4 linked regions of the Homo sapiens genome follow. The protein of the gene in region 1 purifies or fractionates together with the protein of each later gene. This does not show direct contact. Each region holds a gene or a part of one and is shown in the gene's direction. Other genes may lie near its edges.

What was found.
Region 2: the proteins of GINM1 (region 1) and PDZD11 purify together in Homo sapiens (affinity purification with mass spectrometry; 3 studies listed by BioGRID and IntAct, with this or other methods). This does not show direct contact.
Region 3: the proteins of GINM1 (region 1) and VAMP7 purify together in Homo sapiens (affinity purification with mass spectrometry; 3 studies listed by BioGRID and IntAct, with this or other methods). This does not show direct contact.
Region 4: the proteins of GINM1 (region 1) and GCFC2 purify together in Homo sapiens (affinity purification with mass spectrometry; 3 studies listed by BioGRID and IntAct, with this or other methods). This does not show direct contact.

Annotation. Positions count from the first base shown.
Region 1 is NC_000006.12:149,583,361-149,590,384, forward strand, and holds part of GINM1 (glycoprotein integral membrane protein 1 precursor), read left to right. Parts: intron 1-7,024.
Region 2 is NC_000023.11:70,286,904-70,294,450, reverse strand, and holds the start of PDZD11 (PDZ domain-containing protein 11), read left to right. Parts: upstream 1-4,523; 5' UTR 4,524-4,591; exon of another isoform or gene 4,592-4,622; intron 4,623-4,829; exon of another isoform or gene 4,830-5,013; coding exon of another isoform or gene 5,014-5,109; coding exon 5,110-5,196; intron 5,197-5,937; coding exon 5,938-6,021; intron 6,022-6,277; coding exon 6,278-6,334; intron 6,335-6,620; coding exon 6,621-6,719; intron 6,720-7,114; coding exon 7,115-7,175; intron 7,176-7,334; coding exon 7,335-7,369; 3' UTR 7,370-7,547. Other genes in the region: chromosome-associated kinesin KIF4A, read right to left, coding at 3,646-3,760, 3,873-3,992. UniProt on the Homo sapiens protein: Mediates docking of ADAM10 to zonula adherens by interacting with PLEKHA7 which is required for PLEKHA7 to interact with the ADAM10-binding protein TSPAN33.
Region 3 is NC_000023.11:155,933,324-155,940,347, forward strand, and holds part of VAMP7 (vesicle-associated membrane protein 7), read left to right. Parts: intron 1-6,377; coding exon 6,378-6,470; intron 6,471-7,024. UniProt on the Homo sapiens protein: Involved in the targeting and/or fusion of transport vesicles to their target membrane during transport of proteins from the early endosome to the lysosome. Required for heterotypic fusion of late endosomes with lysosomes and homotypic lysosomal fusion.
Region 4 is NC_000002.12:75,707,903-75,715,336, reverse strand, and holds the start of GCFC2 (intron Large complex component GCFC2), read left to right. Parts: upstream 1-4,421; 5' UTR 4,422-4,481; coding exon 4,482-4,746; exon of another isoform or gene 4,747-4,893; intron 4,894-7,434.

The DNA of each region.
Region 1 (7,024 bases):
GCTGAGGCAGGAGAATCACTTGAACCTGGGAGGCAGAGGTTGCAGTGAGCCGAGATTGCACCACTGCACTCCAGTCTGGGCGACAGAGTGAGACTTCATCTCAAAAAATAAAAATAAAAACTAGCTGGGCGTGTGGCACCCATCTGTAGTCCCAGCTTCTTGGGAGGCTGAGGCAGGAGAATCGCTTGAACCCGGAAGGCGGAGGTTGTGGTGAGCCGAGATCGCGCCATTGCACTCCAGCCTGGGAAACGAGCAAAACTCCCTCTCGAAAAAAAAAAAAAAAAGTAAAAGCAAAATAAAAGCCCTCTTAACTGTATATCAGTGAGGTCTAATGAGATTTTCTCTGGCTGAATAAGTCCAAAATCTATTATGTGGGGGGAAATATGGCAAAGCAGTATGATCACATTTAGGTAAAACAAAAGTATTATGTGTATATAAATGCATAGAAAATTTCTGGAATGAGAAAACAAGTTATCTCTAATGAGTGGGAATGAGAGCAGAGGTGGAGAGACTGACTTTGACTTCCTTTTGTATATTTTTTAGTCAAAAATTATAAAATTTAAAATGAATTATTGTTAGTATTTTTTCAAGTTAAATCAGTCGTTTTATTTTATTTTATTTTATTTATTTATTGAGATGGAATGTCACTCCATCACCCAGGCTGGAGTGCAGTGGCATGATCTTGGCTCACTGCAACCTCCGCCTCCTGGGTTCAAGCGATTCTCCTGCCTCAGCCTCCCGAGTAGCTGGGATTACAGGCATGCGCCACCTTGCTTGGTTAATTTTTGTATTTTTAGTAGAGATGGGGTTTTTCCACGTTGGCCCAGCTGGTCTCGAACTCCTGACCTCAGGTGGATCAGGTGGATCACGTCTCGGCCTCCCAAAATGCTGGGATTACAGGCGTGAGCCACTGCACCTGGCCCATTAGTCATTTTAATTATCTTAACAGAAACAAATCTCAATGCAGATGACCACAGTTCTTGGCTTAGCTACATTGCATTATACTGTTATGTAACAGGATTTTTGGAAAAGAAGACCTAATTTGAACATTTACTTTTCCACTTGCTTGTTGTGAGGTCTTTGAACCTCCGACTTCTTCAGGTGTAATGATGAACTAATGCCTCCCTTGAAGGATTGTTGAAAGTCAAAGTCATGAAGCAAGCAAAGCACCTGCAGAGTAAAGAAATATTAGTTGCCCCTCCCACCTCTTAGTTTACATTTCCACTGAATTGGCATTCCCATTCCTTTCTGATATAGAAATATCCTTATCCAAAATGCTTAGAACCAAAAGTGTTTCAGATTTCAGATTTTTTTGGAATTTTGAACATTTGCATTATACTTACTGGTTGAGCATCCTCAATCCAAAATCCAAAATGCTCTTGGGAGCATTTCCTTTGCATATATGGAAATATATATATAATACTTGTATATATTTTATATAAATATTTATAAATGTATATATATATAGAGAGAGAGAGAGAGAGACACGGGGATCTTGCTATGTTGGCTAGGTTGGTCTTGAACTCTTGGCCTCAAGTTGTCCTCCTGCCTTGGCCTCCCAAAGTGCTAGGATTACAGGTGTGAACCACTGTGCCTGGCCAAGCATTTTCTTTAAGTATCATGTTGGCACTCAAAAAGTTTTGGATTTTGGAGCATTTTGGATTTTGGATTAGGGATGCTTGACCTGTAATAAAAATTCTGTAGTTTAACAGATTTCTTTCCCCTTTGGCTGCCAGGAAGTTCCAAACTTTTTTGAACTTTATTATGTATACCTGCATAGAAAACGGTGTTGTAATGTTTTTCTTTTTCTTTTGCCATTGTTTTGTTATGGGTTTCTCTGCAGGAACAGATGCAATATAAAATTAAAAACCAAATTTGCAGTTGTACTGCAGATACTTCCTGGTAGAAAAGGATTTAATACAGAACTATAGAGAGCAATGAACTGAAAGTATCCCTTCTCTGTTCTTCAATTCTTATTCTACCTAGAGGTAGTCATTGTCAACTGAGTTGACATTTTTAATCCAAATTCTATGTATTAATGTAAATGTACACTAGATAATCATAATTGTTTATCAACTCAGATTGTTAATTGTTCTACATTGCATTTTTCACTTAAGACACAGGTTTCCCAAACTTTCTTGGTTTACAGTATCCTTAGTGTGCCAGTAAATTTTTTTAATGCCCCTATACTTAGGCCAAAAGACAAATATAAAGATTTTTATTTTTATTTTTTATTTATTTATTTATTTTGAGACAGAGTCTCACTCTGTCGCCCAGGCTGAAGTGCAGTGGCACAATCTCGGCTCGCTGCAAGCTCCACCTCCCGGGTTCATGCCATTCTCCTGCCTCAGCCTCCCGAGTAGCTGGGACTACAGGCACCCACCACCACGCCCAGCTAATTTTTTGTATGTTTAGTAGAGACGAGGTTTCACTGTGTTAGCCAGGATGGTCTTGATCCCCTGACCTCGTGAGCCCCCTGCCTTGGCCTCCCAAAGTGCTGGGATTACAGGGGTGAGCCACCGCGCCCAGCAATTTTGTTCTTAAATTACTAATTTAAGAAATACTAATGGGATGTGAGTGCCTATAGAGCACTACACAATACCTCATATCTTGGCATCAGACTGGAAATTGGCATCCTCATTTCTTGTTCAGTGTTAGTTTTGTACAGTATTTGCTTTTTATCATAGTAACCACCTGTGTTAAGCCATTTTGTGTTGCTTATAAAGTAATACCTGGGCTGGTTACTTTATAAAGAAAAGAGGTTATTTATTTAGCTCATGGTTCTGCAAGAACCGTGTAGGCTGTACAAGAAGCATGGTGCTGCCATCAGCTGGGCTTCTGGTGAGGTCCTCAGGCTGCTTCCACTCAGCAGCTTCGCAAGGCAAAGCATGTGCAGAGATCACATATCAAGAAAAGAAGCAAGAGGAACAGCAGGGGGGTGTCAGGCTCTTTTTAACAACCAGGTCTCCAGGGAATGAATAATGAGAACTCATTCCCTTCCCCTCCAGAGAGGGCATTAATCTGTTCATGAAGGATCTGTCCTCATGGCCCAAACACTTCCTATTAGGCCACACCTCCAACATAGGGGATTAAATTTTAACATGAGGTTTGGAGGGGAAAAACTTTCCAAATCTAGCACCACCAAAACCCAGCTTTGGAAAGATTGACTTCATTGAATGTTTTGCAATCTAATGTTAAAAGCATGAAGTAACCTCAAGGTAATATTACACATGAAGTCTCTTGAAAATTTATATTATTCTGTGGTGCCTCTGTGAGTTTGCTCACCAACCCAGGGACCTCAGTGCAGTTTGGGAACCATAGACCTAAGATCTTTTCTTATCACTACATATATTCTTTTTTGTCCCCTTAGTTATTTTAATTCTATTTTATTTTTTATTACTTATTTTTGAGACAAGGTCTCACCTTGACACCCAGGCTGGAATGCAGTGGCTCAGTCATGGCTCACTGCAGCCTCAATCTCCCAAGACTCAAGTGATCCTCTCACCTCAATCTCCCAAGACTCAAGTGATCCTCTCACCTCAGCCTCCTGAGTAGCTAGGACTAAGGTGTGTGTCACCATGCCCAGCTAATTTTTTTAATTTATTTTTTGTAGAGGCCAGGTTGGCCCAGGCTGGTCTCAAACTCCTGGGGTCAAGCAGTCCTTCCACCTTGGCTTCCCAAAGTTCTGGGATTACAGGCATCAGCCACCATGCCCAGCCCTTAATATTATTTTTAACTGACATGTCATAATTATGTATAGCTTACCTATTCTTTTTATGGCTGCATAGTTCTAAAGGAGATAGGAAAAACCAAAGCATAGGAAAAATACTTTGGTTTTTCCTACTCTGACACTCTGGAGTACTTCACGTTTGGGCACCAATACGTGTGTGGGGATTTTTCACCACCAATAACTAATTCTCCAGTGGACACCAGCTGGGTGTCCTCTAATTCAGTTCAGTTCTGACACTTTCCACCTGGACACAGCGTCAGATCCCACAGGCTAAGGGCTTAGTTCCACAAGACTGCCCCCCTTCAGATGCCAGTTGTAAGCCCCAGGTTGTGATGTGTGATTCTGACCAGCTGGGTATAAAGAGGTTGCCATGACTTCCTCTTTGGGTTTGATTAATTTGCTTGGGACGTCTTTGGGGCGGCTCACAGATCTCAGGGAAACACCTCCACTTACTGGTTTATTACAAAGGAAACATGAAGAGGCAGATGGAAGAAGTGCATAGGGCAAGACATGGGGAGGGGGAGAGGGGTTCAGAGCTTCCCTGCCCTCCCTAGGTGCACCTCTATCCAGGTCCCATACCTCTGTGTGTTCAGCTATCCAGAAGCTCTCCAAAGCTAGTCCTTTTGGGTTCTTTTGCAGGTTTCATCACACAGGCATGATTGATTACATCATTGGTCACTGGTGATCAACTCAACCTTCAGTACCCCGTTCCCTTCCCCAAGGTTGGGGGATGGGACTGATCTCATGGTTGATACCCCTGGCAACCAGCTCCCCTGTTGAGGCTATCCAGGATCCCCCAGCCATCAGTCATCATTAGCATCCAAAAGATACTTACCACTTTGGAGATTTAAGGATTTTAGGAGCTGTTCCAGGAAGCCAGAGGAACTTACAAGTCATAATATCACAGGTGTTCCACAGTATAGATATACCTTAATATAACCATTCCTCTAACATTTAGGTAATTTCCAATTTCATGTTAATCCCAATAATGTTCTAGTATACATCCTTGCACATATATTTCTTTGCACATGTGTATTTATGTAGAATAGATTCCTAAAAGTAAAATTACTGTGTCACAAGTAATTGTATTAACTCCTTACAACCTGATGATAATCTTTTTTGGTTTTGCTACTAAAAATATAATTCATCTTAATTTGCATTTTCATCTTACTAGCATCTTTGCTAGTTTAGGTCTGGGTGGGTTCAACATCTTTGTGATAATTGGCTATATATGATTCTCTCATGACTTGCTTACGTAGAGCCTCTGGCCATTTTTCAATTGTGTTGGCATTTTGTAACTATTAGTATATAAGAGCTCTTTTGTCTGTTATACATATGTAATGCACATTGCAGATTTTTTTACTAATCCCAGCCTATCGTTTGTCTTTTGCTTATTTATGGTATCTCATCATACAAAAGCTTTAAATTCAAGGCCTAAGTAATTCATGTTATTCCTTTACAGCATGTAGGGTTTTTATTTTGCCTACTAAGTAGGCCAGACTTTCCTATCTTAAAATTATGGGGCTTTTTTTGTTTGTTTTTTGTTTTTTAAAGACAGGGTTTTGTTCTGTTGCCCAGGCTGGAGTACAGTGGCAGTGCTATCAAGGCCCACTGCAGCCTTGACCCTCCTGGGTTCAAGCGATCCTCCTGCCTCAGCCTCCCAAGTAGCTGGGACTACAGGCACTTGCCACCCTGCCTGGCTAATTTGTTGTTGTTGTTGTTGTTGTTGTTGAGACACAGTCTTGCTCTGTTGCCCTGGCTGGAGTGCAGTGGTGTGATCTTGGCTTGCTGCAACCTCCACCTCCTGGTTTCAAGCAATTCTCATGCCTCAGCCTCCTGAATAGCTTGAGATTACAGGCGCCCGCCACCATGCCTGGCCAATTTTTGTATTTTTAGTAGAGATGGGTTTCACCATGTTGGCCAGGATGGTCTCGAACTCCTGACCTCAAGTGACCCACCCGTCTCGGCCTCCCAAAGTGCTGGGATTGCAGGCGTGAGCCACCGTGCCCAGCCATTTTTTTAAAAAAAATTTATTTTGTGTAGAGACAGGGTCTCACTATGTTGCCCAGGCTGGACTCCTTGGGCCCAAGCAGTCCTCCTGCTTCAGCCTCCAAAGGTGCTGGGATTACTAAGGGCATGAGCCACTGTGCCCAGCCATTATATTTTCTTAAAATTTATTTATTTATTTATTTATATATTTGAGACAGAGTCTCGCTTTGTTGCCCAGGCTAGAGTGCAGTGGCACAATCTCTGCTCACTGCAACCTCAACTTCCCGGGGTCAAGAGATTCTCCTGCCTCAGCCTCCCGAGTAGCTGGGATTACAGGCGTGCACCACCACAGCCGGCTAATTTATGTATTTTTAGTAGAGACAGGGTTTCACCATGTTGGCCAGGCTGGCCTCGAACTCCTGACCTCAGGTGATCCACCCACCTCAGCCTCCCAAAGTGCTGGGATTACAGGCATGAGCCACTGCACCCAGCCAAAATTTATTTTTTAGCATTACTTTTCTGTATACTTTTAAAGCTAGAGTTCTCATTTTGTTTCCCAGACAGAGGCCATTTTTCCATTAGTAATTTATCATTGACTTAGAATGTTACCTTATTATAAACTAAATTTCCATATATGTTAGTCTTTTTCTGGACTGTTTTCTGTCCTAGTGATCTATTTGTCTATTCCTGTGCCAGTAGCACAGTTTTAATTACTCTCATGTTTTGTTTTTGTTTTTGAGACAGGGGCTAACTTTGTCACCCAGGCGGCAGTGCAGTGGCACGATCTCGGCTCACTGCAACCTCCACTTCCCGGGTTCAAGCGATCCTCCCACCTCAGCCTCCTGAATAGCTAGCTAGCTGGGACTGCATGTGTCCCATGCCCAGCTAATTTTTTCTATTTTTAGTAGAGATGGGGTTTTGCCATGTTTCCCAGGCTGATCTTGAACTCCTGGGCTCAAGTGATCTGCCCGCCTTGGCCTCCCAAAGTGCTGGGATTATAGGTGTGAGCCCCTACACCTGGCCTACTATCATGTTTTAATAAAACCTTTGAGAGCTACTTAAGACAACTTTGTCTTCTCCCCATTGTTCTTTTAAAAAAAATCTTATGGCTGTTCTTGCAGTTACTCCCCTGTGAACTTTAGAATCTGTTTGGTTCTATAAACAACTAACCCCCGTTGATGTTCTTATTAGAATAACACTGAATTTACAATGCAGGGTCCTAGATTCAATCCAAAGACGTACTCTCTGGTCAGGGATTTTAAGTAACAAAAAGAGCAACACTATCTAAAGACCTAAGGTTGTGTT
Region 2 (7,547 bases), on another chromosome or scaffold:
ATAATAAATGATTGTTACTAGTTTATGTGTTTAGTATACTATACCATACTTTTTATCATTTTTAAGAGTATACTCCTTCTACTTATGATAAATAAAGTTAACTGTAAAACAGCCTCAGGCAGGTCCTTCAGGAGGTATTCCAGAAGAAAGTATTGTTGTCATAGGAGATGACAGCTCTATGGATGTTATTGTCCCTGAAGACTTTCCAGTAGGACAAGACGTGGAGGTGGAAGACAGTGATATTGAAGATCCTGGCCCTGGGTGGGCCTAGGCTAATGTGTATGTTTGTGTCTTAGTTTTTAACAAAAAGTTTAAAAAGTAAAAAAATATATTTTTTTAAAAAGAAAAAAGCTTACAGAATAAAGATGCAGAGTGAAAATGTTTATTCCGCTGTGCAATGTATTTGTGTTTTAAGCTAAGTATTATTACAAAAAAGTCAAAAAGATTTAAAAAATTAAAGTTTATAAAGTAAAAAACGTATAATAAGCGAAGGTTAATTTATGATTGAAGAAAGACACAAAGTTTAATAAATTTAGTGTAAGCTAAGTATCCAGTGTTTATAAAGTCTACAGTAGTATACAATAATGTTTTAGGCCCTTACATTCACTCACCACTCATCACTGACTCACTCAGAGCAACTTCCAGTCCTGCAAGCTCCATTCACGGTAATTGCCCTATACGGGTGTATCAGTTTTTACCTTTCATACTGTATTTTTACCTCACCTTTTCTATACTTAGATCACAAATATTTTCCATGATGTTACAACCGCCTACAGTATTCAGTACAGTAACATGCTTTGCAGGTTTGTAGCCTAGGAGCAGTAGGCTCAGGTGTATAGGAGGCTATACTATCTAGGTTTGTATACATGCACTCCACCATGTTCATACAATGACAAAACCGCCTAATAATGCACTTCTCAGAAGGTATCCCTGTCGTTAACTGATGCATAATTATAACTTGCTACTTAATTGTACAGTAGTAGCTTCTAAAACTATAAGCATGGCACCTAAAAGGAACTACAAATGCAAATTTACTTCAAGGTGAAAAAAATAATGACCTTAGGGAAGTCTGTTCCTTATTAGTGTGGCAGACATGTTGTCAAGGAACACAAAGCAAGCTTTCTCTGTTAAATGATCATCATATTTATGTCAAAGCTGTTATCTGCTATTTACCAAGATAATTTTGCAGTCTGAAGGAAAAAACCCTTTAAACTTTGAAACAACGTTTTAATCTAAATGAAAACTTTGAAGTTTTGAAAAAACTTGTTGGTCTAAATGAAGGATCATAAGAAGATGCTAAATTGAGATTTTCACTGTAATAGACCGCTGGTATCAGCTGGCATGACTATGGGGCAAGAGAATAACATTCCATAATTTTCTGCAATACCACAGATATGTGCAGATAGCAATAACTTGGGAAATGAGGTTTTAGTAGTTTTTACAAAATACTTAGGGCTCTGTGGTACCAGGAGTTCAGAGTACAAGAGGGTGCTGTTGAGCTGACTATAAAAAATATTGACTTTGTTTTTGCAACCAAGGGTAATGTTAAGCAAACACATGTATATTGGAATCACTTTCTACTTTATGTTGCCTTTAAAGAACATAATTTAATTCTATCAGTTTCCCAAGTTAAGAATGTAAAAGTAGAACTGTGGTGCTCTTACTAAGCTGTGGAGGTATAGCCTGAGGAATCTGACCAGATAGTGCAGGGTCTGAAAAGCATATTGTTTCAGGAATGGCTAAAGGAAAGGCGGGGATAATTGAAGAGAATTAGGTAGAAACACTTAACGGTTTTCCAAATACTGTATGTAAAAAGGAAAAAGATTATAGTGGAGAAGCCCAGCAGATTAACACCTTAATCAAATGATCAAAATGAACATCAGTAGTAATAGAATAAATCAAAATCATGTGCTGCCCAATAGGCTTCAGTGAGAAGAAAACAGCACCACTTCTGTGATATTCCTGCTAAAAGATACACAACCTGAATCTAATCATAAGTAAATGCCAGACAAAACAATATTGAGAAAAGGTTTACAAAATAACTGGCCTGTAATCTTCAAAGTGTCAAACTCATAAAAGTCAAAAAAAGACTAAAGAACTGTTTTAGAATGGAGACTAAAGAGACAGCAAAACTAAATAAAACGTGATTTTGAACTAGATCTTTTTGCCATAAAATATTTACTGGGACAATTGGTGAAACTTGAATGGGGTTTCAGGAATAGATGGTAGTAATGTAGCAGTGCAAATTTTATTGTTTTGATGGTTGTATTGTGGTAACTTAGAAGAAAGTCCTTTTTTGTAGGAAATATACACTAAAGTATGGGGGGTTATCAGGCCAATGATTCATCTCAAATGGTTCAGGGAAAAAATGTTTTTTATGCTGTTCTTGCAACATTCTATACGTTTGAAATTATTGCATTAATATCTTAAAATTTTGAAACAAAAATTTCAGTGTTCCTTGAGCCATATCATTAAACAAAAAAACGTGAAAAAATATGTGAATAGCTGTTGCCTAGAAGAAGGCTTCTAAAGGAATGAACTAACATCACTGGGTAGAAATTACCAGGAAGCAAATTTCATCTCATTATAAAGATCTTTATAACATAATTAGACTTGTCCAAAACCCAAATCTCAACTGGACTACCTGTGAGTCAGTGAGTTCCCTGTCAAAAAAATTTTAGACACTGGCAGTTCACCTAACAGATATTGTTAGAACGCATTTTTCTTTGGATGAAAAACAAACTAGATGATATACAAATGTCTCTTTCAACTTTAAGGCACTAGCATGCCATGATTCTACTTCTTTTAAACGAACCTCTGTTTTGAATCTTGAATAACCACTGTATTAGAATAATAATTAGACATCTCTCAGGCACTGCTCCCTTCTTTAGAACCCTGCTATGGTCCTCAACAGCATTAAAGACTTAGCTTCCCCAGTAAAGATTATTAACTGGTGATAGTATTCAGAGGCTTTAGGCACTCCCCTTCTCCACCTAAAAGAAGTATACTCATTATTCAAGACCCATCTCAAAGTTTTCCCACTCTGTGAAATTCACCCCAAATTCCCCAAGCAGAGTTAGAGCCATCCTTTTGTTTTTCATACCACTTTGTATGAGAGCAGAGCTACTACTTCCATAGGACTGACTCTGTTGTATATTTTTAACTTGAAAAATTTTTCTTCTAAAAGATAGGTACAAAAAATTTAAAAATTTTTATATATTCAAAATTATTTATGTAGTCATCTATCTCCATTCCTATCCCCTGGACTTTGAACTCCTTCAGGGCCTCGAAGCTATATTATTTATCACCTGAATCCCTCAACAAGCTTTGCAGTGCCTGGGCCTCAAGTAGGTTGGCACACTTATCACCATCAGCAACCACCACAGAGTTTATAATCTAATGAAGTTCCAGGATAAACAAACATATACAAGTCAAAGATGAACAGAACCACATAAAGCAAATACAGAATAAAACTAGCTTCAAGGGTACAGAGACGTTGACAAATGTTATTAGGCTAAGGGCTTCTTGAAGGCAGGAATCATGATTCATCGATTCCTGTATTTGCAGTGCCCAAGCACAGTGCTTGGCACATAGTATATGCTCAAGGAATATATATGTTACGTTCGAGGAATCAAATCGCCTTACCTTTAAATACACCTTTTATGAGTGGCGCTACTGCTGTATTGAAGACTTCTTCCTGTTCAGTAGAGGGATCAAATACAAAATCGTAGGTGAAGGATTTATCTGTACCAACCACCACCTAGAGAAGGCACGGGACAAGGCGTAAGGTTAAAAATGAAAGGCAAGACCACACCCCTCGTTACCATTTGGCCCCAGCTGTTCAGACACAGGCTCTGGACTCTGCTACGCACCTGAGGCTCTCCGGGCACGAAGGAAAGGCACATCTGGCAGCCCTCGCTAATCTCTTTGGGGACCAGAGGGCGACAACGCAGCGCCACTCTTACGGGAATTCCCTTCACCTCTTCCTTCATGATCCTATCTCAGCACCGTCTCTGCGAGGGGGAAAAAGAAGGCTCGCTGATGAATGTTAGTAGGTCAGCAGGGGTGGGAGGGCGTCCTCCCCGGTTCCGACCCTCCTCAGCGGGAACACTGACTTGGGAGATTCACGCTCCATGACTTGGCCAGGGCTGGACCGCCCGTCAGCCCTGCACTCTAAAGAGAGTGCACGGGCTTCTGAAAGGCAAAGAAAAAACTCCAACGGGGACGGCGACAAAGAACCAAAGCCCTAGGGTACTGGGTAAAAACAGGTTCTGAGCTAAGGTGTGCCCCCGTAACTCACCAAACTAAATGTCCCTTCCCCGTTCTCCCTGGGCCTCCCGCCGCCCTGTCCCAGCCGGAGCTTTAACCGCCAAGTTTCAAATCCGTCCCGGAGACGCCAACCAATTGCAGTGCGGACTGCCCGAGGGCGGAGCGCGCACGTCGGCGCGCGCAGGCCGGCGCGGTGGGAAGGGGAGGGTCAGCTCGTTGCACCCTGGCCCGGCCTCTTTTCGACCCTGCGGAGCATCCGCTTCCGGTTCCCAGACTGAATTGTCAGTGAGCGGAGTCTGAGGTCGCTGTGGACTGCCCACTGGTGAGGTGGTGCGGCGTTTATGCGGCTGAGAGTGCGGGTCTCAGGCAGAATGTGGGGCGGGGACGTGGGAGGTGGCTGGTCAGGTGAAGGAAGGGTCGATCTAAGGACCCTACCATTACTAATCACATCTAGGAAATGTGGGGCGGTGCCTTGCCCCGAGTCCCTGCGGATAGTTAACACTCCCTTGGGCTTCGAAAGTAGATCTTTTTAGACTCGACCCTGATTTCCTCTTCTCCAGGTTTGAGACGGTAACATCTGTTTTGCAGGATTGTGAAAAATGAGGTCCTCTTTCTAGAGTACCTGACAGGTTGCTTGGCATCCAGAAGATGTTTAGCTAAGTTAAGAGTTTTCTTCTGTCTTCCTTCTCTCCTCCAACCTTAACACCTAGATATGGGCTGGGCCTGTAGACTGACTGCCTTGGAATGGGTTGGAGCTGCTGTCTGAAACTTGCTGGGCTGCTCTCCCTTTTGAACCACTTTTTGTCTGTTCTGATTCACTCTTCCAGGGCCTTGCCCGAGATGGACAGCCGGATTCCTTATGATGACTACCCGGTGGTTTTCTTGCCTGCCTATGAGAATCCTCCAGCATGGATTCCTCCTCATGAGGTGGGAACCATCTGTATTCCTGAGTAGGAGATTTTTTTCCCCGTGGGCATGAGATGATGCATGAAAGGTAGGATAGCAGGGTTAGAAGGCGAAACGGAGAGTGAATCTTAGCACTTGTAGCCAGAGGACCCAGAAGCTGGATTCTGAGCAACAGGACCCATTGGGAACTTCTTTATGGAAGCCTCCTGCTAGGGTCTGTTCACACCGGTTAATTCTGGAAATTTGGAGCCTTCATTTCCATACTGTTAAGAGGTTCAGCGCGGTGGCTCATGCCTGTAATCCCAGCACTTTGGGAGGCCGAAACAGGCGGATCACCTGAGGTTGGGAGTTCGAGACCAGCCTGACCAACATGGAGAAACCGCGTCTCTACTAAAAATACAAAATTAGCCGGGCGTGGTGGCACATGCCTGTAATCCCAGCTACTAGGGAGGCTGAGGCGGGAGAATTGCTTGAACCTGGGAGGCAGAGGTTGCGGTGAGCTGAGATTGAGCCATTGCACTCCAGCCTGGGCAACAAGAGCAAAACTCCATCTCAAAAAAAAAAAAAAAAGGTGAAGAAATGGGGAGCTACTGGGCTGCCCCAGTGCTATCCATCTACTCATTTAGTCTGTGTTATCTGTTCTACTTAAATTAAGTCTATGACCTTTCCTTTTCCTGACTTCAGGGTAATTCATTAGTGTTTCAGATGAAGGTAGGTGTGAAGTAAGACTGGTAAAATTTCTGGGGTTGCTGTGTCTTGCAGAGGGTACACCACCCGGACTACAACAATGAGTTGACCCAGTTTCTGCCCCGAACCATCACACTGAAGAAGCCTCCTGGAGCTCAGGTGAACTTATGAAACCTTATTTCAGGCTAGATTCATCCATACCACAAATTGGCAGTGTTGGGGGGATGGATTGGAAAGCAGGTGCAGATGTGAGGAAACTTTCCTTCTTGTGGACAGAAAAGCTGAGATAACACTTCTGCAACTTCTGACTTTCCTCTCAGGGACACACAAGCTGAGCTATTGTACGATGATGCTACTAGTTGTTCTTGTGTTTGTGGTCTCCATTGAGCCCCCATTCTGTGCTCTTGTCTTACAGTTGGGATTTAACATCCGAGGAGGAAAGGCCTCCCAGCTAGGCATCTTCATCTCCAAGGTATTTATGCCCAGTAGGCAATATGGATCGTTACTTCCCTTTGTTAAATTAACAGATTGCAGAACCCTAATGTCCCAAGGGCTGAGAGGATGACTCTGGATTCATAGAAGGGGTATAATGGAGACACCCCCTTTCCCACTTAAAACTTTTCATTTGGCAGGCCATCTGTCTGCATACATTGTCACAGAAAAACAATAGCACCATACATTTGAATAGCACCGAATTTCACTGACAGTCTTCTGAAATTATCGCATCCCAATCACATGTATTCTCTCTTTACCAACAGGTGATTCCTGACTCTGATGCACATAGAGCAGGACTGCAGGAAGGGGACCAAGTTCTAGCTGTGAATGATGTGGATTTCCAAGATATTGAGCACAGCAAGGTGAGCACAGTACTTGGGCTGTGGTGCTGCAAGAAGCCATCTCAAATAGGACAGATTGGACAGGAGTAGCCTAATCTGTAACTTAATAAGAAAGCATTTTGCTGGGCACTGTGGTACACGCCTGTAATCCCAGCTACTTAGGAGGCTGAGGCGGGAGGATCACTTGAGCCCAGGAATTTAAGACCAGCCCAGGCAACGCAGCAAGACCCTGTCTCAAAACAAACAAACAAACAAACAAAAAGAGAGAGAGAAAGTAAGCACCTCTCCTGGGAAAGTACAGGAGGGAAGCAGCTATTAGTGACACACAGGTTGGAGTGGCAAATCCCTTTCCCCCTATTATGATTCTGTCTTGGGTCATATCTCTTCATTTGTACAAGCTGCTGTGTTCCTTCCAGGCTGTTGAGATCCTGAAGACAGCTCGTGAAATCAGCATGCGTGTGCGCTTCTTTCCCTACAGTAAGTGCCACTTTCTTTTTTCACTTTCCTGACAGGGCCCTAAGTAAGAACTCTTTAAATACTGATGACTAGAGGCCCTACAAGTTGGGGATAGGGAATCAGGAGCTCAAGCGTGAAGATAACCTGCTCTGTTCCTCCTTTTCTTCTTCTTTCCTTCAGATTATCATCGCCAAAAAGAGAGGACTGTGCACTAGAAAGTTGCAGCCCACAGCCCTTCATGTGGACTCTGTCATGACATGCTAACTAGACTTCAGGGGAGCCACTTCTGTTTTCAGCCCCTCCCTGGAATAGTGAGTTGGGAGGATGGGGAGACAGCTAACCAACTGCATTACCCAAACCATATTGCACTTTTAGTTCCCTAGTTTTCTAGGT
Region 3 (7,024 bases), on another chromosome or scaffold:
ATCTGGTCCTGGACTTTTTTTGGTTGGTAAGCTATTAATTATTGCCTCAATTTCAGAGCCTGTTATTGGTCTATTCAGAGATTCAACTTCTTCCTGGTTTAGTCTTGGGAGGGTGTATGTGTCAAGGAATTTATCCATTTCTTCTAGATTTTCTAGTTTATTTGTGTAGAGGTGTTTGTAGTATTCTCTGATGGTAGTTTGTATTTCTGTGGGATCGGTGGTGATATCCCCTTTTATCATTTTTTATTGCGTCTATTTGATTCTTCTCTCTTTTCTTCTTTATTAGTCTTGCTAGCAGTCTATCAATTTTGTTGATCTTTTCAAAAAACCAGCTCCTGGATTCATTGATTTCTTGAAGGGTTTTTTGTGTCTCTATCTCGTTCAGTTCTGCTCTGAGTTATTTCTTGCCTTCTGCTAGCTTTTGAATGTGTTTGCTCTTGTTCCTCTAGTTCTTTTAATTGTGATGTTAGGGTGTCAATTTTATATCTTTCCTGCTTCCTTTTGTGGGCATTTAGTGCTATAAATTTCCCTCTACACACTGCTTTAAATGTGTCCCAGAGATTCTGGTATGTTGTGTCTTTGTTCTCATTGGTTTCAAAGAACATGTTTATTTCTGCATTCATTTCGTTATGTACCCAGTAGTCATTCAGGAGCAGGTTGTTCAGTCTCCATGTAGCTGAGCAGTTTTGAGTGAGTTTCTTAATCTTGAGTTCTAATTTGATTTCACTGTGGTCTGAGAGACAGTTTGTTATAATTTCTGTTCTTTTACATTTGCTGAGGAGTGCTTTACTTCCAACTATGTGGTCAATTTTGGAATAAGTGCGATGTGGTGCTGAGAAGAATGTATATTCTGTTGATTTGGGGTGGAGAGTTCTGTAGATGTCTGTTAGGTCCGCTTGGTGCAGAGCTGAGTTCAATTCCTGGATATCCTTGTTAACTTTCTGTCTCATTGATCTGTCTAATGTTGACAGTGGGGTGTTAAAGTCTCCCTTTATTATTGTATGGGAGTCTAAGTCTCTTTGTAGGTCTCTAAGGACTTGCTTTATGAATCTGGGTCCTCCTGTATTGGGTGCATAAATATTTAGGATAGTTAGCTCTTCTTGTTGAATTGATCCCTTTACCATTATGTAATGGCCTTCTTTGTCTCTTTTGATCCTTGCTAGTTTAAAGTCTGTTTTATCAGAGACTAGGATTGCAACCCCTGCCTTTTTTTGTTTTCCATTTGCTTGGTAGATCTTCCTGCATCCCTTTATTTTGAGCCTATGTGTGTCTCTGCACATGAGATGGATTTCCTGAATACAGCACACTGATGGGTCTTTACTCTTTATCTAATTTGCCAGTCTGTGTCTTTTAATTGGAGCATTTAGCCCATTTACATTTAAGGTTGATACTGTTATGTGTGAATTTGATCCTGTCATTATGATGCTAGCTGGTTATTTTGCTCGTTAGTTGATGCAGTTTCTTCCTAGCCTTGATGGTCTTTACAATTTGGCATGTTTTTCCAGTGGCTGGTATGTGTTGTTCCTTTCCATGTTTAGTGCTTCCTTCAGGAGCTCTTGTAAGGCAGGCCTGGTGGTGACAAAATCTCTCAGCATTTGCTTGTCTGTAAAGGATTTTATTTTTCCTTCACCTATGAAGCTTAGTTTGGCTGGATATGAAATTCTGGGTTGAAAATTCTTTTCTTTAAGAATTTTGGATATTGGCCCCCACTCTCTTCTGGCTTGTAGAGTTTCTGCCGAGAGATCAGCTGTTAGTCTGATGGGCTTCCCTTTGTGGGTAACCCGACCTTTCTCTCTGGCTGCCCTTAACATTTTTTCCTTCATTTCAACTTTGGTGATCTGACAATTATGTGTCTCGGAGTTGCTCTTCTCGAGGAGTATCTTTGTGGCGTTCTCTGTATTTCCTGAATTTGAATGTTGGCCTGCCTTGCTAGGTTGGGGAAGTTCTCCTGGCTAATATCCTGCAGAGTGTTTTCCAACTTGGTTCCATTCTCCCCATCACTTTCAGGTACACCAATCAGACGTAGATTTGGTCTTTTCACATAGTCCCATATTTCTTGGAGGCTTTTTTCGTTTCTTTTTATTCTTTTTTCTCTAAACTTCTCTTCTCGCTTCATTTCATTCATTTGGTCTTCAATCACGGATACCCTTTCTTCCAGTTGTTCGAATCGGCTACTGAAGTTTGTGCATTCGTCACTTAGTTCTCGTGCCATGGTTTTCAGCTCCATCAGGTCATTTAAGGACTTGTCTACATTGGTTATTCTAGTTAGCCATTCATCTAATCTTTTTTTCAAGGTTTTTAGCTTCTTTGTGCTGGGTTCAAACTTCCTCCTTTAGCTCAGAGAAGTTTGATCATCTGAAGCCTTCTTTTCTCAACTCGTCAAAGTCATTCTCTGTCTACCTTTGTTCTGTTGCTGGTGAGGAGCTGCGTTCCTTTGGAGGAGGAGAGGCGCTCTGATTTTTAGAATTTTCAGTTTTTCTGCTGTTTTTTTCCCTATCTTTGTGGTTTTATCTACCTTTGGTCTTTGATGATGGTGACATACAGATGGGGTTTTTGTGTGGATGTCCTTTCTGTTTGTTAGTTTTCCTTCTAACAGTCAGGACCCTCAGCTGCAGGTCTGTTGGAGTTTGTCGGAGGGCCACTCCAGACCCTGTTTGCCTGGGTATCAGCAGCGGAGGCTGCAGAACAGTGAATATTGCTGAACACCAAATGTTGCTCTCTGATCGTTCCTCTGGAGGTTTTGTCTCAGAGGGGTACCCGCCGTGTGAGGTGTCAGTCTGCCTCTACTGGGGGGTACCTCCCAGTTAGGCTGCTTGGGGGTCAGGGACCCACTTGAGGAGGCAGTCTGTCTGTTCTCAGATCTCAAACTCTGTCCTGGGAGAACCACTACTCTCTTCAAAGCTGTCAGACAGGGACATTTAAGTTTGCAGAGGTTTCTGCTGCCTTTTGTTCAGCTATGCCCTGCCCCCAGAGGTGGAGTCTACAGAGGCAGGCAGGCCTCCTTGAGCTGTGGTGGGCTCCACCCAGTTCGAGCTTCCCGGCAGCTTTGTTTACCTACTCAAGCCTCAGCAATGGCGGGCGCCTCTCCTCCAGCCTCGCTGCCACCTTGCAGTTCAATCTCAGACTGCTGTGCTAGCAATGAGTGAGGCTCCGTGGGTGTGGGACCCTCTGAGCCAGGCGCGGGATATAATCTCCTGGTGTGCTGTTTGCTAAGACCGTTGGAAAAGCGCAGTATTAGGGTGGGAGTGATCCGATTTTCCAGGTGCCATCTGTCACAGCTTCCCTTGGCTAGGAAAGGGAATTCCCTGACCCCTTGTGCTTCCCGGGTGAGGCGATGTCTCGCCCTGCTTCGGCTCACGCTCGGTGGGCTGCACCCACTGTCCAACAAGCCCCAGTGAGATGAAGCCGGTATCTCAGTTGGAAATGCAGAAATCATCCGTCTTGTGCGTTGCTCACGCTGGGGGCTGTAGACTGGAGCTGTTCCTATTTGGCCATCTTGGAACAGGAATCAAAGGAAATTTTTTAAAAATCCCATTTATGATAGCATCAAAAAGAGTACAATAGTTAGGAATAAATTTAACCAAGGATGTAATAATGTGCACACTGAAAATTATAAAACATTGATGAAAGAAATTCAAGAAGACACAAATCAATGGAAAGATACCTTATGTTTATGGATTGGAAGAATCAATATTATTAAAATGTTCATACTGCCTGAAGCAATACACAGATTCAACACAATCCCTATTGAAATTCCAATGGCATTTTTCACAGAATAGAAAAAAAAATTCTAAAATGTGGATGAAACTAGAAGACATTATATTAAGTGAAATATACTAGACACAGATAGATAAATACTGTATGATTTCACTTATATATGGAATCTAAAAAAAATGTTCAGTTCATAAAAGCAGAGAGTAAAACAGTGGTTGACAGTGGGTGGGAGACCTGGAGAGATGTTGGTCAAAGTGTATGAACTTACAGTTGTAAGATGAATAAGTTCTGGATACCGGACATACAGCATGGCAACTATAGTTAATAATAATGTATTGAATATTTGAAATATGCTATAAGAATAGATCTTAAGCATTCTCACCACATACCCAAAAAAGTAACTATGTGAGGTGATGGATATTTTACTTAGCTTGATTGTGGTAATAATTTCACAATGTGTACATTTATCAGAATATCACATTGTATACCTTGAATATATACCATTTTTATTTGCCAATTATACTTCAAGGCAGAAAAAAATAAAATTAGAGTAGAAACAAAAGCTTGGAGGTCTGAAATGTTACTAAAAGTGTAACATTTTCCTTTTTTCAATATTCTTGCCACATGGTGGGTAGGTCCTTTTAGTCTGAAGATTCAAGTCTGTCTTATTTGGGGGATATTTTCTTCAATTAGTCCCTTGATTATTGATCCTTCTCTTTTGGCTGTATTCTCTCCTGTGACTGCTAATAGGTGTGTAAATCAGTACCAGGCACATAATAAGCACATGTTAAATATCTGTTGATCGTATAAATTGATCCTGGATTTGCTTGATCAGTTTTCCGTGTATCTTACATCTTCTTTCATGATTTACAACCTAGACATTTTGCTGTTTTCAGAACAAATTTTTTGAATTGTTACTGCAGAAGCTGCTTTTGCTCATTTATGTTCTGCTTTTAAAAAATTATGCCATTTTATTAAAATATAGTTTTTGGAATGTTGTCATGTTATCTAATTTTTTATGTCCTCTGATGACTTTGTTTAAAATTAGTTCAATTATGTCTTGTATCTGAGGATACTTATTAGAAATTTTTTTATTACTGTTATTCTATCTTGTTTCCCATATTAACTTTGTTCCATTAAGGACTGTTTGTCCCCATTGCTTTTTTTGTCTCCTCACTTTAACTGCTGTTTCTTCTCAAAAGTTCTAGTCAATGCATATATTCTATTCAACATATATATTTAGCTCTAGATGTAATCAGTTTTGGTATGTGCCTCCAGGTGGCATCCTGTGCAGTCTTCATGAAGTGAAACCCAAAGACTGGTGCCCCTGTCAGTTGTTCTACTGCAGAGACTTTGTGGAGTATGTGGTTGGAGATGAATCTATGGTTAAGGGAGTGGATTTTTTAAAACCAATATGTGAAGTATAATATACATAAAGTGCATCAACTGTAAGCATACAACTTGTTGTGTTTTCACAAAGTAAACATACCATGTAGAACCAACACCCAGATTAAGAACTAGAGCACGAACAGTACCCCAGAAGCTCCCTTCTCCCTTCTTTTAGTCACTACTCTTCTCCAAAGGTGGCCACTGTCCTGATTTCTCCACATAGATTAATAAAACATAGCAGGGGCCGAGAGTGGTGGCACACACCTATAGTCCCAGCTACTCAGGAGGCTGAGGTGGGAGGATCGTTTGAGCCCAGGAGGTCAAAGCTGCAGTGAGTCGTAATTGTGCCACTGCACTCCAGCTTGGGCGACAGAGCAAGACCCTGTCTCAAGATAAATAATAAAATATAGCAGGTATTCTGTTTATGTCAAGTTTCTATTGCTCAAAATGATGTTTGTGAGATTCATCTGTGGTAAATTGTATAAATGTAGTAGTAGATTGTGAATTGTCATTACTGTATTGTATTCCATGTTATGACTCTCCTGTAATTTATGCATTGCACAGTTGATGGGCATTTGGGTGGTTTCCAGTTTAAGGTATGAAAAGTAGTGCTGTCCAAAACATTTTTTTATATGTCTTTTGGTGAATTTGCATACATCTGTGGGACCATACCAGAGTGGATTGCTGGATTATTAGGGAGTTTTGTTGGTTGGTTGTTTGCCATTTTGTTTTAAACTCCTTGTGTCCTGGTGGGAATTGTTCAGTAGATACTGAGAAATTGATGATGCAAAAGAAAATGGATAGCAGAAGGAATGAAGTTCTATGGGTTTTGGCCCTCACAAAAGTAAATACATATCTTCCTACAGAAATCAAACAGGTTTTTATGGCTCAAAGCCCCGGAATTATACGGGGCAGAATAGGCGAATGTGCTTGCAGTCAGCTGGCTTTAAAAGAGCCTTTCTTATTGGAAGTATAGAGAGGAAAATTCTTTTCCACTAGCGGGAAGAACCACTTCTGGTGCTCAACATCATGTGCATTGCTGCAGTGGAGAAGAAAAAAGAGGGAAGCGTTTTCATTGGGCTCATACTGCTTATGATAGGCCTGGCAGAGTCTTGCTTTTGGCAACTATTGAGTATGAATGGCCAGTCTCTACTTGTAAAGAGAGGTCATTGGACTTAAATGGAATTAATGGAAGTAAAATGTTCTCAGGTTGTTACTGCAAATCATTCATGTAGTCAGTGCCAGGGGTTAAACAATTCTCGCCTCTTTTCTAGTCTGTCACCTTCAAAACTACCAGCAGAAATCTTGCTCGAGCCATGTGTATGAAGAACCTCAAGCTCACTATTATCATCATCATCGTATCAATTGTAAGTTTTTGTCCTTTTAGTGTATGGCTTTATTTTTCAATCTCTAAGAAATTAGGTACTAGAATTATTTCTCAATGATTAACACTCTGAAATGAGCTACATATGTCTTTTAATAGTGAAACACATGACCAGGCAGTGGCTTTCCTATGAAGTCACTATGAAATATCTCTACTTAAACCCCTCCTTCCTATTGAGAATTATTATATATTCTCAATAGGAAGAGATCTATAAAACTGACCTCACAGAAATGTAGTTATTTTAAATAAAGACATTTCTGGTTTATATGTAATGGGTTTATTGTTTTTATTTTTAAATTAATTATGTATTTTTAAAGTTTTAATTTCTAATATGGCAAATGCTGATAATTATAATCCCCCTTAAACAAGAACTCTTTGGAGTCCTCAGTAATTTTTGAGTGTGTAAAGAGGTCCTAAACCACAACTTTAAAAACTATTGCTAACAGGTGGGGGGTGCTTTACCCTGTTCATGGTCAGATAAAGTTGCCTTTCCTCCCCATCCTCCAGTCATGTCCAGAAGCCCAAAGTTACCTCCAA
Region 4 (7,434 bases), on another chromosome or scaffold:
ATCTGAATTTCAAGTTTTACCAGGTATTCTATATTTTTTCTAAATCTGGCAACTATCCCTCAGAGTCATCGCTCTGCTTTCCCTGGGGACAGAGGAGAAAACTCAGGATTCCTCCCCCTTTATTAAATAAGTTATCTTTATTTCATCCTCTCCCACCAAGGCAACACCCAGAGAAAATAATTTTTCTCACTTCTTTCCCTTAGAACAAATGTTTGATTTCTGTTTTAAATAGCAGAGTTTTTTCTATCTCCATCATATATCACCTATCTCTTAACATGTTTGCATTTAACAAGTTAGAGTGACTTGTTTTCCAGTTTTATTTTCGTGAGTGAACACAGATGTTTCAGAATTGCCTCATCCAACCATTTAGTTCATTGTGTTCATGTCAGTTGTGCACTAAACACTAAACTAGGTATAGGATATCAAAATGAGTAAAAGAAGGGCTCTGTCTGGGGAGGCAGTGTCTTTTAAAATGGGAAAGTAAACAATGAGTCCACATTAGCAGATGGCTCTGAACTCAGCCGAGAACAGTAAACTCTGCCTAGCGTTTTCACATTTTGGTTTAACATCGTTTGTGAGTTAGTGACTTTTGAAGGGAAAGAACAGCCTTCTAGAACACCAACATCACACTTAGATTGTCCTTAAATAAACTGCTGCCTTTTAAGCAACACTGGGAGTGAATTCTGTCCTGCTGACCCCCTTTCCAATTGCAACAAACACCTAAAATGACTTTGGAAGCTGGCAGAGAACCCTTTTTGAGGAGGTGCAGACAGATATCCCCTTATGGTGAACAACTTCTACACTTAAATAACCTTACTCACTTTGAATAGATTCTTATTAGTTTTCCTTTTGGGGGGCTATTTAGGTTTCTAAATTTTGAGGTACCTAACATTTACATGCTGTTACAATCTGATATGAAGTTCATCAATGATTAAGTTATTTAGACTATTTTTTAAGACTTCTTTTTTTTTTTTGGAGATGGAGTCTCACTCTGTCACCAGGCTGGAGTACAGTGGTGCGGTCTCGGCTCACTGCAACCTCCGCCTCCTGGGTTCAAGTGATTCTTCTGCTTCAGCCTCCCAAGTAGCTGGGATTACAGGCATGCACCACCACGCCCGGCTAATTTTTGTATTTTTAGTAGAGATGGGGTTTCACCATGTTGGTCATGCTGGTCTTGAACTCCTGACCTCGTGATCTGCCCACCTCGGCCTCCCAAAGTGCTGGGATTACTGGCGTGAGCCACTGCGCCCAGCCTTCTTAAGGGTGATTAATACTTAGTATCTGCTCTAGGACCTTGCTATTTAGAGTGATCCTCAGACAAGTATCCTCGCCTTCACCTGGGAGCTTGCTAGAAATGAAGACTCTTGGTTCCTACACATAGCAGCTCAATCAGTATCTATATGTCCACACTATTTCCATGTGCTTTGAAGAACATTAGATTTGATAAGCATTAGTCTAGGGCTTAGCATGGTGCCTGTGCTAGTAGGTGTATAATAAACACTGATTGAATTGTACGATATATTAATATGTTTCCTTAAGAGTGCATAACAGAACACTGAATTTCTCTCCAATTACAATCACGATCATCTTCCTCATTCTCCTCACTGTTTCAAAATGCTAGTCTTAGCTGGGCATTGGGGTATGCGCGTGTAGTCCCAGATCCTCAGGAGGCTAAGGTGGGAGGATCACTAAGCCCAGTAGGTCAAGGCTGAAGTGAGCTGTATTTGCACCATCGCACTGGGTGGCAGAGCGAGACTCTGTCCATAAAATTAACTAAACTAAAAATTATAGTCTCCTGTTTGGTTTAGCATTAACTACTTTATAGTGTAATTTGGAAAGATGTCCTCCTCTGCTAAGGGAGTACAGAGCAGTATCCATGGCAGAACTTGGGAATTCTGCATGGAAAGATGGCATCTGAAAAGCACTGGACCGAACGGAACCCACTTCTCCATCTCCAATCTTTAAAGTTTATTCTAACTACAAGGAGCACTTGGTCCATGATAGGAAGCTGTTCTTTCAGATGCCACAAGTATCTCTATTCTCCAGAAATATCTTTTTCACACCATTTGCCAATTTTCCAAAAGAAACACACAAAAAAACAAGTAGTTCTCTAATTTTACCTGGATTTAAAAAGAGAAGCCTCTCTTTATAATAAGACATTAATAACTTGTGAATAACTGATAATACTGTATCATATAATTTCCCAAATTTACATCAAGGAGTTTCAGTTTATTGAGAAAAGCCAAGAAAAAAAGACAAAGCCAAGAAAAAAAAATTCCGGGGCTAGGTCAATCAGAGAAACTTTGCCTCTTCTCGATTCCTTTGGTGACATATAGTCAGTGATACAATGGTAAATGTTTAATGACTGGATATCTGGGAGAAACACCTGGACTTCTAAGGTCTTCCAATTTATATGGTATAAGTAGTCCCTTTATGGCTGATTTCAAGGTGCCAATATTGTGTCCGGAATTGGTGGGTTCTTGGTCTCACTGATTTCAAGAATGAAGCTGCGGACCCTCGCGGTGAGCGTTACAGCTCTTAAGGTGGCGCGTCTGGGGTCTGCCCCTTCTGATGTTCAGATGTGTTTGGAGTTTCTTCCTTCTGGTGGGTTTGTGGTCTCGCTGGGCTCAGGAATGAAGCTGCAGATCTTCACGGTGAGTGTTACAGCTCATAAAAGCCACGTGGACCCAAAGAGTCAGCAGTAGCAAGATTTATTGCAAAGAGCGAAAGAACAAAGCTTCCACACTGTGGAAGGGGACCGGAGCGGGTTGCCACTGCTGGCTGGGGCAGCCTGCTTTTATTCTCTTATCTGGCCCCACCCACATCCTGCTGATTGGTAGAGCCCAGCGGCCTGTTTTGACAGGGCCGTGATTGGTGCGTTTACAATCCCTGAGCTAGATACAAAAGTTCTCCACATCCCCATCAGATTAGTTAGATACAGAGTTTCCACACACAGGTTCTCCAAGGCCTCACCAGAGCAGCTAGATAGAATGTCTATTGGTGCACTCACAAACCTTGAGCTAAACACAGGGTGCTGATTGGTGGGTTTACAAACCTTGAGCTAGATACAGAGTGCCGATTGGTGTTTTTACAATCCCTGAGCTAGACATAAAGGTTCTCCAAGGCCCCACCAGAGCAGCTAGATACAGAGTGTCGATTGGTGCACTCATAAACCTTGAGCTAAACACAGGGTGCTGATTGGTGTGTTTACAAACCTTGAGCCAGATACAGAGTGCTGATTGGTGTATTTACAATCCCTGAGCTAGACATAAAGACTCTCTATGTCCCCACCAGACTCAGGAGCCCAACTGGCTTCACCTAGTGGATCCCGCACCGGGGCTGCAGGTGGAGCTGCCTGCCAGTCCGGCGCCGTGCGCTCGTACTCCTCAGCCCTTGGGTGGTCGATGGGACTGGGCGCCGTGGAGCAGGGGGTGGTGCTCGTCGGGGATGCTCGGGCAGCACAGGAGCCCATGGAGTGGATGGGAGGCTCAGGCATGGCGGGCTGCAGGTCCCGAGCCCTGCACCGCGGGAAGGCAGCTAAGGCCCGGCGAGAAATCGAGCACAGCGCCGGTGGGCCGGCACTGCTAGGGGACCCAGTACACCCTCTGTAGCCGCTGGCCCGGGTGCCAAGTCCCTCACTGCCCGGGGCTGGCAGGGCCGGCCGGCTGCTCCGAGTGCAGGCCCGCCAAGCCCATGCCCACCCGGAACTCCAGCTGGCCCGCTGTCACCTCTCAATATGACGCCACTAAACATGGAGTTGATAACAGGTGTGCAGTAGCTCAACATTATATAGTATTTCTACCATACAGATACAGTAGTAGACAGAGCTTGATGAATATAGAACAAATTTGCGTCAGACAATAGCTTTTTGTTTTTAGATAGTTTCTTTAAGGGTGAAAACATTTAACCAGGCTCTCTTGAAGCCCTGCTGCCTGGGGGAAGTCATTTGATTTTTGCTAGTCTGTATGCATTGTTTATGTACAGACTTTATGGTTTTGTTCTCAAAGGCATCTCCTCCTACCCCGAGCCTCACACTGCTGGGGTTTCGTTTGTTTTAAATCTTGGTTGGAGGGGGCACTCTCTCCAGAAAGTAAAAGACAACGGATCTGGCTCCAGTCCAGGACGGAAAGCATAACGCTTGATTTCTGGATGGGGTTTGCACAAGGACAGCACGTGAGTTCTGCTCTCCGTGGGACTCAGACCGGATAGGCCGTGAAAATCTCTAAGGTGTCAGTCCACGCAACCTAACCTGGCAAAGGGAATGCTTTGCAAACTCAGGCCCCAGAACAGAACTCGGCCTACCAGATCCAGGGAGCCAAAGCACGCAGGCGCAGACAGAGTAGCGGTGAGCAGAAGGCAGGCGGGACGGGCGCGCGCACTCGGCGGCCAGGCGCGGCGGGAGCGCGCCCTAGGGGGCGGGCACTGAAGCTGCGGCTTGCGGTTCAGCGGGTTCTAGGGCGCCGGGCGCTCGGGCCTCGGCCATGGCTCACAGGCCGAAAAGGACTTTTCGGCAGCGCGCGGCTGATTCCAGCGACAGCGATGGCGCCGAGGAGTCGCCTGCTGAGCCTGGGGCGCCGAGGGAACTTCCGGTCCCGGGTTCTGCGGAGGAAGAGCCGCCCTCTGGAGGAGGCCGCGCGCAGGTGGCGGGACTGCCCCACCGGGTTCGGGGCCCTCGTGGCCGGGGCCGGGTCTGGGCGAGCTCCCGGCGTGCCACCAAAGCGGCTCCCCGCGCGGACGAAGGCTCAGGTGTCCAGGGAGACGCGGGGAAGCGGGGAGGTGACGGCACAGGGCGGGAAGGGGCCGCGGGGTCTCTGGATCCTTCTCTGGGGGTTCTATAACTTGCTGCCGACCACAAGCCATGCTGAGTCTTATCCAGAAAGACTTATCCAGAAGGTAGTGAGCGAGAAAATAGCTCGAGCACTTGCCCGCTATCTGCATCTGCCTTTTGGACTCCTTGGGGGAAATAAAACAATCGTGTACAGTTGGGAGGCTCTTCGTTTTCACCATCAGTTGACTCCATCAGTTATAACTAACACAGTTATCAAAGTTTATGAAGAACCTAAACTGTCACAACAAAGTTCAATAATTTATAATACTATTAAGTGGGCAGAAGTTATATGTACCTTTTAGACACTTGACCAACTTATCTTTCTTGAAAACATTTAGCCAGAGTAGTACAGGAATCTAGGTTTTGGGACATTCCCCTTTGTTTATTTTCTTTTTTCACCAGTTATTTGCAAAAACTAATAGTAATATATACAACACAAAGAAGCATGATAGAGATTCATGACACTGTAGATGGTACCAGTAATGGTGTTAGATATAGTGTCGTCATTTTGAAGTACCTTTGAGTTCTTAAATACAGGTGTAAGGCAGCATAAAGTTGTTTAAATAAAATGTGCTGCTCTGAGTTGGAATTGTAGCTTAATGAGGAATACGGTTTTTGGTTAGTCTTGAGAGCTAAAATCTTCCTATTATTTTTTATTGTCATTAAAGTGATTTTTATTAATTTATTGAGAAGTAAAAAATGTATATACTTATAGTGTACAACATGATGTTTGAAATGTGTCTACAGTGACTAAATGGAGCTAATTAACATTTGCTTTACCTTAGGTACTTACTTTTTTTTGTGGTGAGAACACTTACTATCTACTCTTACTAATTTTCAAGTATGCAATGCATTGTTATTAATTTTAGTCACCGTGTTGTAGAATAGAATTCCTCTTGTCTAATTAAAATGTGTGCCCTTTGACCAGTATCTTCCCAACTACCCTCAACCTCACTCAGTCCCTTCTAACCACTACTCGACTCTCTGCTTCTGTGATTTCTGATTTCCACTTTTTTAGATTACATATGTGAGATCATGTGGTGTTTGTCTCTCTGTGCCTGTCTTATTTCATGTAACATAATGTCCTCCAGGTTTATGATCTTCGTGATTTCTTGGTCTTTCTTGTGACCTTCTATTTGTCTAAAGTTTTCATGACCTTTTATATTTGTTTTCTGGTTAAACTTTGTAGATGAAAGTTGAAGTCAGGAGTTCCTTTTCTCTTGCCTTCTAGAATAGTGGTTCTCAAACTCTTTGGGAATTGGACCTCTTTTAGACTCTTAGAAATGATTAAGGATTCCAAAGAGCTTTTGTTTCAGTAGGTTATACCTATCAATATTTATCACACTAAAAATAAAATTTATTAATTCACTTACAAAAAATCTATTACATGTAAGGATAAGTAAGATTTTTGTGAAAAGTATTACCCCAAAAAAGGAAGAGTAGCATTGTTTTCAATTTACAGATCTCTTTAATGTCTGGCAAAATATTAATAGAAGACAGATGAATTGTCATAGGTGTTTCTGCTTTTAATCTCTTGTGCTATTTTGTTTTGGTTGAAGTATTTGAAGAAAATACAGCCTCTGACAGATACATGATTAAGACGAGTACTTAATAGCATTTTTAGATCATTGAGGGTGTTGTGCTTTAATATAACACAGCTCAACAAGTAATAAACTAACCCTTCTTAAAAGTTAGTTGCGGGCCGGGCACAGTGGCTCACACCTGTAATCCCAGCACTTTAGGAGGCCGAGGCAGGTGTATCAAGAGATCAGGAGTTCGAGCCCAGCCTGGCCAACATGGTGAAACCCCATCTCTACTAAAAATACAAAAATTAGCCAGGCATGGTGGTGGGTGCCTGTAATCCCAGCTACTCAGGAGGCTGAGGCAGAGAATCACTTGAACCCGGGAGGCAGAGGTTGCAGTGAGCTGAGATTGTGCCACTACACTCTAGCCTGGGTGACAGAGTGAGACTTTATCTCAAAAAAAAAAAAAAAAAAAAAAAAAAAAGTTGCCAAATGGATTCTTAAACCATATGATTAAATTTGGGGTGCTCTTACCTTAAAACTCTGTTCTGTTTTGTACTTTGGATCTTTTACTCATGAACGATTGGTAACATCTTGCATTATTTGGAAGGTATTCATTAGCTGAGTTTGCAGATCTTGCAAATGTTGGAGCATTTTATTGTACAATACCAAAAAAATCATAGTATTACCACTGATTAATCAGTCTGTAAGTACTGGAAAGCTGTTAGGTTCACAGTAGAGAATATAAGTTTTCCAAAATCTCAATTTTCACTTGAAATCTCTCATTTTATTGATAGGCACAACCGGGCTCATGTTTTGAGAAAATGTTTGTCAGATAGCCATGTCTGAATAATCGGTTTGTTAGTCATTCTTTCAAGTAAAATGGTGATGCTTCTTAAAAACAACGTCTAGTTCAGCTTGCAACTCAGTCACACAAATGCTTTTCCTTAAGGCAGCCATTGCATTTCAAGATGCAGCAAAAGTGCCTTATGAATACTTTGATTTTGTCACAAAGAATATTAAACATGTGTACTCAAGGGTCAAAATTTAATAAAATAACAATTTTTTAATTAGTTCATGAAG